2 separate regions of the Homo sapiens genome follow, and region 2 is linked to region 1. Evidence: fine-mapped expression QTL. A gene starts in region 1. The other region holds a variant in brackets. All regions are shown on one strand. Distances are from middle to middle. Region 1 holds the start of ITPR1 (inositol 1,4,5-trisphosphate receptor type 1). Region 2 overlaps ITPR1 (inositol 1,4,5-trisphosphate receptor type 1).

Region 1 (4,264 bases):
CTTATCAACAGGAAACAAAAGCACTATACCACTATAATGAAGTGTCTGACTTTTATTTTCTCATTAGAAAAGCCCAAAGATTGTAGCCCAGGGAACAGCTAAATATTTAGAATGTTAAAAAAGTTATTAAGACCCAGCCACCCACCCCCACCTACCTCTGTTACCCTGTTATTTACCATGTTCCTGAACATTTCAGGAGAAAAAACTCCTGATAGCCAAATCTGCAGCAATAGTGATGTACGTGCACCCGTTGAAACCTCCCACTCTTCAAATGCAGTCTGACCATTTTGGGGAAAAAATAGGAACTGTTGTGTTTACAGATAAATGCTGCTCTCAGCTCATATTCCACCACGGGCCCCAAAACAACAGGGACCTGCCAGATTCCTTGACACTCAGGTGGCTTGAGTCAAGGGCTGGATGCTACCACCTTAAGCTTCAATAACTCACTTCCCTTTTTAAAGTTCTAATTCTTTCAACTTGCAGCAACCACTTTCATTTCTTGCAATCCAACCTACTCTGATTAAGCACACGTTCAAAATTAGAAAAGAGTGACTATTTCTTGAAGGAGAGAGGCAGTTAATACTGCTTACACATTTTGGCATATGAAATGCACTGTATCCTTCAGAATTTAAATCATCAGCATGCTTTTCAGACCGGCAATGGGCCGCCGTTTTATTGCTCCATTTAATGGCCTTTTCCCCTCCTCTCTCATAAACTTTCAGGCTCCTTCAATTCTCAGCTACTTCCAAGAAACGGACTGTCCACTGGACCTCTGCTCCCAAAAGCCCTCACCAAAGGCAGAGGCAAATTTTGAAGACTGAGCCACGGAGTTTCTTTTTCTTTCTTACTCCCCACCTCCTTGGCGGTTTAGATAGAACTTAAAATAGGCTTAGGACAAAAACTCATTATTGACTACAGCACTCAGGCTTCCACACTCACCTGACCTGGGTCAGGCACTCTGTTGCCAAAGCAAGCCCAGCGAGGGGTGCAAATCCTGCTCCTCTGTAGTCAGCTCCTAAATATTTAGAAAGAAAGAAGACTGAGTACCAGACCGCGGAAGATGAGCTCTAACAGAAATGCTCCAAATTACAAGTTTCCACCTTCTTTAGCCTCCTTCACTGGGGACAGCCCCCCCGCCCCCAAACTTGGTAGGCAGGTTGGTGGGATCGCTTGGGCGAAGATTCCAGGTAACTACGCTTACTTATTTCCAGGATGTAACTGACAATTGAGACTAGGCACGCACAAACTTCGAACGTGCGGGAGGCTGGAACTAAGGGAAGTGTTTGGCAGATCCCAAAGCACTTGTTTCCCGGCGAGAAGGCCAAGTATCCGAAGCCCGCATCCTCATTGGACATGAGCTTCGTCCACACTTCATCCCTCACCGCTTCTCCGGTTTTCTTCCGTTTTTAAAAACCCTCCCCACGGGGGGCCCCTACACATGCATTATTCTCCCAACCACGGAGCGCAAGAGAGGGATACATTTTTAGAAAGATTATTTCCTTGAGCAGACTCACATATGACACCCCCACAACCTCTCTTCAAAAAAAAAAAAAAAAAAAGAACTATTTCCTGCAGCTGCAGCAACAGTTTCCAACTTGGGGGAATGCCACATCAGACCAGAATGGGGAGCCCCCAAAGCCACGCACTAGAGTAGAGGATATTTGTTTTTTAAGCTTCAAATGAGCTCCCCCCAAAACAACTGCCCGCAGTAAAGGAACCCCCAAATGCATGCCAAGTGCATGCACATCCATCAAGATCTCCCCGAGAGCGGGGCAAAAACTTCTGCGCCCGGGGAGCCAGTGCCAACTCCCCGCGCCCTCTGCCCGGCCCCAGCCGCTACCTTGGTGCCCGGGGAGCCACGCCGGTTTGGGGGAGCAGGGCGAGGAGAGGGGTTAGCAGCCGCTGGGTAATCCCATGTCCGCGAAGAGGGAGCTCGTTCCGTTAGGATGGAAGCGGAACACCCACACCTCCTCTCGGCGTGCGCTTTCTCTCTCTCCACCCCCTGCCTCCTCCTCCACCACCACCTCCTCCTCCTCCTCTCCTCCCACCCCAGCGAGCTTGAGGAAACGCTTCAGCAGCACATCCACATGGTTACTGCACTTTAAAGCGGCTCCGGGTGGCTTATATAGGCCGGGAAGCTCCCTGGGCAATGTAGTCCAAGTAGCGGGTCGTGGCGGCGCCTGAGGCTGCGGGGAGGGACTACAAGTCCCAGAATCCCCTGGGCGCCCGGGCTGGGCCCTAAATAGACGCGTGCGGGGACAGGGGAGGGGCGTCCTGCGAGGCTTTCAGGCTGCTGAGCCTGTTCCTTGGCTGGGGTCGGTAGGGCTTGGAGCCAGCCGTTCAAAGTCACCCCTGGGAAGCGCCCGCAACCCTTGGGGACGCCTCTCCTCCGGCTGCCCCCCTTCCCTGGAATCCAGGTGTCACTGGGGCCGGGGAGGGGCTAGGAGCTCGGATTTCTGCTTTGGGAAGTTTTTACAAGCCCACCCTCCCCCTGCCTTGGTTCCCCGAGCCAAGAATTTCAGAAATCCGGGGCACAAAAACGCCAGTGTTTGCGGTCAAGGATTAAAGGCGCGAGGTGTCTTTATTTAATCTGCTCCGCCCTGCTCGGGTTTGCACGAGAAACCAAGCCTGGGAGCGACGGTCCACGCAAGCGGAGACACAGGCAAGTCGCGTGAGAGCACTTTTCTGAGCCCGAGTTGCTTGTCTTTTATCGCCCGTGAGGAGGTAAAGAAAGGCAGACCTCTCCGGTGCACAAATAAAGGAGCCGTGTTGTGACTTGCCGGCTCTGAGATTGGGAGGCAGAAAATAAATACAAACCGCGACCTCAGTCCTGACCGTACCTCTAGCAGCCCCTCTGCTCCTGGGAGCTGTAAATGCTTAAGTAAATAAACCGCAAACCAGAAAAATAAGGGCTTAGGAAAGAGCCGCTCACACAGAGATGCGCATCCAGGCGGGGCGCTCTCCAAGAGCTCCGAATGGGGCAAGGTGGGTTTCACCCGCTGCCAAGTAATGCCTGGGCTCCCGGGCTACACGCTGCTTAGGGCTCCGGCTTTTGCAAGGAGGGGAAGAGCTAAGCCCGGAGGCAGTCAGCCGACTGCCCTGTCTTGCCTCAAATGACGTATATTCATTCCTCAAACGTTTCCTGAGTGTTTACTAGGTGCCAGGCGCTGGGGCATAGTGGTGAGCCAAACGCATTATAGCATCCCAGACAGGCACTTCCTGACGCCGCCTAAAGATCTGTTATAACAATAGTAATAATAATGATAATAATCAATGGGGAGGCTGATTTTATTGAGCCCAGACCACATGCAGTTTTCATGCGTCATGCTATTGAGTTTTACCAACTGTAGGTATATTTATTATATCTATTTGGCAGGTGCACAATCCAGGGCTCAGAGAAATCAGGTAACTTCCCAAATGACCCCTCGAGTTAAGTGGTACAGCCTGGACTCCCGTTCCAGACTCTACGTGTATGAAACCCTTGTCTTTGGGGAAATCCACCGCCATTGCCTTAAATAGCCTCTCTCCCCATTTAGGAGCAGCCTCTGAGCCCTTGGGCAAGTCATTTTCATCTCTTTGCCCCAGTTTTGCCATCTGAAGGAAATTCTTATTAGAATATGTCTACTTTTTAGCAGGATTCCTTAATATAAAATCGAGTCTCATGAAACTTTAGGAACAAATTAGAGGAGAATCATAGCTAATAGTTATTACTGACATAATAATGCCAAAACGAATCATAATTATTGACACTTATTGGGTGAATGCCATGTGTCAGGCATTGGTCTAAACTCTTTCTGTATAGCACCTAATTAAATCCTATTAAGCCATTTTTTACTTATGAGAAAACTGAGGGGGGGCACAAAGCGATTAAATTACTTCCTCCAAAGTCACACAAATAGCTGAGTCTTGAACCCTGGTCCTAAACTACTAGTCTCCGCTACCTCCCCAATGTAAACATGTGCACTGTATTTGCCTGCTCAGATAAGCATTTAATGTCAGTCCAGGAAGGGGCAAAGCTCTTGAAATAGACAAAGTTTGTGTTCACGATATTCACTCCTGCCCTCCGTTCCCTGTCAGCATTATCCCCTGGTCACTGGACGCTGGGGTCTAGTGCCTAATACGTTAAGCTGCTTCTCCCCATCATCAAGAAACTGCCGCATCTGCCATATAAAGGAGATGTTTCTCATTCGCCCCCACTCATCTCTTCCCCCATGAAAACCTCTTCCATTTTCAAAGGATCTTCGGCTCTACTTTTCAAGCAAAT
Region 2 (4,280 bases), 60 kb before region 1:
AAAACCAAATTGCAGAATAATAATTACGGGTTTAAGAAAATTCATAAAAATGTATGTTTTAATATACGCCTATATGCCTTCAAATGAATAGGAAACATCCTGGAAAGATACACACCAAACTGCCAAAAGCAATCGCTTGCCTCTGAAGACCAAGTTTCTAGTCCTGTCTCTGTAATAACTACCTGTACAATCTTGGCTAAGTCACCTAACTCAGGAAACACCTAAGGTAGTTTCCTCACCTTAAAGCAGGAGAGGCAGGGATGACTGGATTCAGTAATGCCTCTAATTGATTCCAATCCCCCAAATACCCTGACTTTGATTATGGGATTCTGGTGCTTTCTACAAATAAAAACACTGAATTCTCCAACACTTCATCCTTTATTAGAAGCCCTATGGAACATGGTGTGTTGTTTCAAAAGCACAGCCTATGACAGATGGAAACACATTCCGCGGGTACAGTTCCATCCCCAGATCATGCTCTCAGTAACGAAATCTTTCTTCACCCCTATTCCCCACACATGAATGCTGTGTGCTCCTAGAGAAGATAATTGCCTTATCCATTGATATATGAGCAACAGTTCTTTTATTGCCATTTTTGCTTTTTTCCCCAGATTGTCATCAGAAATGTATTTACACTATCATTCATAAACATATGTAACCCAATTAATCCACCCACAAGCAGGAAGACAAGAAACTGCTGTTTTAAAATCAGGGGCAGGTTGTCATCCTCCACCCAATGACCAGTGAGACAGATATTTCGAGTCACTGGCCCCCATCATGATTCTAGGTTACCACCGGGTTAACTGAAACCTCAGTCCTCAGTCTCTGCCCATCTGCTCTCTCTCAGGGGGTTGATGTAACCTGTAGCCACACTGTCACTCCTTCCCAACCAGCCTGCCTGCCACCCTACGACCCCTTTCTCTCCAGCCCAACCCACCAGTGAGCTCACCACCGTAGGTCCCCAGCACCTACACCAGTGCCTGGCACATAGCCAGCATCAAAAACAAGGATTCAATTGATTCATGCCCACAAAAAACATTTACTAACTAGGCCAATACACGTAATTACCAGACTAATCTTCCTAAAGGAAAGTACTGATTCCTTCTGCGACTCGGCAAAAAATGTATTCTCTAAAACCTGGAGCACCTATGATGTGCCAAACACTGTACTCATTTCTGACAAAATAAAGAATGATACACTGCTAAGCTCACAGGTATCAGTGGGCCTCTATTCCTATCAAAGAGAACAGAATTCATCACTAACTGTGCCACTCAGTGACTGTTACCTTGGGCAAGATACTTAAACTCTCTGAACCTGTTTCCTCACCAATAAGATGGGATTGCCCTCACTGCTAAATGAAGTAATGAACATAATACATTTAGTGTAGTAAGATACCAATAAAGGTTCTTTTTAAAATTAATAATAGTAGTAAGGCTGGGCGCGGTGGCTCACACCTGTAATCCGAGCACTTTGGGATGCCAAGGAGGGCGGACTGCTTGAGCCCAGGAGTTTTCAAGACCAGCCTGGGCAACATGGCAAAATCCTGTCTCTAAACAACTAAAAAATGTTAGCCAGGCTGGGCGTGGTGGCTCACGCCCGTAACCCCAGCACTTTGGGAGGCCAAGGCAGGTGGATCACCTGAGGTCAGGAGTTCGAGACCATCCTGGCCAACATGGTGAAATCCCGTCTCTACTAAAAATACAAAAATTAGCCAGGCGTGGTGGTGGGCACCTGTAATCTCAGCTACTCAGGAGACTGAGGGAGGAGAATCACTTGAACCTGGGAGGCAGAAGTTGCAGTGAGCTGAGATCATGCCATTGCACTCCAGCCTGGGCGACAAGAAGGAGACTCTGTCTCAAAAAAAAAAAAAAAAGAAATTATCCAGGCGTGGTGGCACGCGCTTGTAGTCCCAGCTACTCAGGAGGCTGAGGTGGGAGGACTGCTTAAGCCCAGGAGGTAGAGGTTACATTGAGCTGAAATCGTACCACTGTACTTCAGCCTGGGTGACACAGCAAGACCCTCCCTCAAAACAAAATAATAATAACAATAGCAAGAACAAACTTCAAATGTCTTAGTCAATCAAAGACTTCAAAATCTGGTACCAATAAACCACTTAAGCCTCAACCTCACACACCCTGTCTATCTGTCAAAAAAATCATAGCTGGAGTCTGCCCATCTGTGTCTTTGGTCCTGTAATTCACTGTAGAAAAATGTCCCACCCCTCTATCCCAACCCTCACTCCATTCATGTTTAATGCCCGCCCATCCTTTGTTGCC[C/T]GGCTTAATATGCCTTCTCCGTAAGTTTTTCTACTCATGACATCACCTCCCACCACAATAAACTTCATCTGTGGTCCCATGGCACTTTAAAACAGCACCTCATCTATTCTTTATAGTGCACTCATTCAACATGCTTTTGTGATGAAAGACACATCTGTTTTCTGACAGATGTTTCACTTTGTGTTGGGGATGCTGGGGTCAACGAGAAAGTCCCTACCCACAATCTAGCAGCGGAGTTAGGCATAAAATAAATCATTACTGTCACATTGTGAAATATATATTTGGTCTTTGACCCTGTTTCCTGGCATACAACCCCTAAAATCCTCAGAAATGCCAAAGTGATGTCTTTTGCATGCTAATGAGTTGACTGGTAGCTGGCAGCCCCCAGGCAGCTTCTAGATGGAGCTGGTCACCAGAAAAAAACAAGGCAGGATTAGAGGGTCCAGCTTTCAGCCCAGAAAGAGGAGAGGGAAGAGAGGCTGAAGGTTAAGTTGATCACCAATGGCCAATGATTTAATCAATCATGCTTACATAATGAAGCTTCCATAAAAACCCAAAAGGACCAGCTTCAGATAACTGAACATGTGGAGGCAGACAAGATGGTGAACAAGAACTCATCCACCCACTGGGAGGATAGTGGGCCCCAACTCCATAGGAACAGAAGCTCCTACACTCAAGACCCTTCCAGACCTCACCCTGTGTATCTCCTCCTCTGGTTATCTGTATCCTTTGTAATATCCTTTATAATAAATGGGTAAACATGCTTCCCTGAGTTGTGTGAGCCACTCTAGCAAATTAATCCAACCCAAAGAGGTGGTCATAGGAATCCAAACTTAAAGCCAGTCAGTCAGACGTTCCAGAGGCCCAGACTGGTGTGTCAGGTGGGAGGTGGGGCATTCTTGGGGGCTGAGCCTCCAATCTGTGGGATCTAATACTATCACCAGTTAAACATTAAAATAGAAGATACCCAGCTGTTGTCTGCTGCAGAATTGATTGCTTGCTTGGTGATGGGGAGAATTTCCCCCACCCCGTTTGTCACAGAAATCTGTGTTGACTGCTGTTGAGTGAGAGACTAGAAAAAGCACTTTGAGTTTGTTTTTTTCCACAATCAGAATTATCCAAATAATTTCTGCATTAGAACTGTGATAAGCATCCTAAACAAAACAGATAAAAATACAAATGGGATTACTTCTGCTATCCTGAGACCTAGATTAAAGACAAGCCTGTTTCACATGGAACCTCCAGAGCATATGTAATAAATGTTCGTTAGAGTCAATCAAATTATCTTTTCTATTAAAAGTTAACTCATTTGAGAGTAGGGACCTTGCCTCAGACAGCAGAGATGTAGTCAAAAAATAAGATACGACTGGTTGCAGCTATTGCTTGTTGACTTACCAGCTATATAACTTAAGCCGACTTCTCTGATTTCAGATTCTTCATGTGAATAAGAGAATAAGCCTTTAGAAACTGTTAAAAGTACTATATACATGGAGTATTATCTGTATCTAGCCCACTACAATTAACACATGCTGTAAATATAGTGAGGGTTTGGCAGATGTTTGCTGAATGAACATTAAGTCCCTGGCCAAGGCCAGGGGTGAGCTCTGTTGTGACCTTGATTCATGAGCAAGAACCAACGTCAGCCCTGAAACAGCTACTCAACCCTTTATAATTAAAACATGGAATAATCTCTCTAGATAAGAAGCATGGACACTTCTTGGCAACGCTGAGAGATTAGAAAGATCTGTTCTCATAAAAAACCCTGTATGCTGAAGCTATCAGAAGACAGTATTTTCATAAGGACACATTTCTGAATCGCTTCATGATTTCACATCTCAATCTCAGCACCAAAAGTGAGGGCCAGTAGAATAACTCATCCCATAAATACGGTGATACTGCTATGATTCTAACACCATCTCTTCATTCCCATTATTTTTGCCTTCTAGACTCCAGATGGTCTTTTTTGTTGTTGTTACAAGCAGACCAAGACAAGAATAAGAGCAA

Evidence for each region. PIP is the estimated chance that this variant, and not a neighbour inherited with it, causes the effect.
Region 2: its variant is the best candidate, but not a certain one, in a credible set for the expression of ITPR1 in lung (GTEx, PIP 0.53).

Annotation. Positions count from the first base shown.
Region 1 is chr3:4,491,182-4,495,445 of GRCh38, reverse strand. It overlaps ITPR1 (inositol 1,4,5-trisphosphate receptor type 1), which reads right to left and starts at 2,098. Exons shown (of 62, transcript NM_001378452.1): 1 at 1,841-2,098; 2 at 940-1,015. ITPR1-DT (ITPR1 divergent transcript) reads left to right here and starts at 2,283. Exons shown (of 2, transcript NR_108075.1): 1 at 2,283-2,662; 2 at 4,078-4,264. RefSeq lists silencers at 167-461, 1,760-2,029.
Region 2 is chr3:4,551,195-4,555,474 of GRCh38, reverse strand. All of the region lies in intron 4 of ITPR1 (inositol 1,4,5-trisphosphate receptor type 1), which reads right to left. Among named protein-coding and RNA genes, the nearest start is that of ITPR1, 60 kb to the right of the region's middle. The variant C/T (reference allele first, on the strand shown) is at 2,277.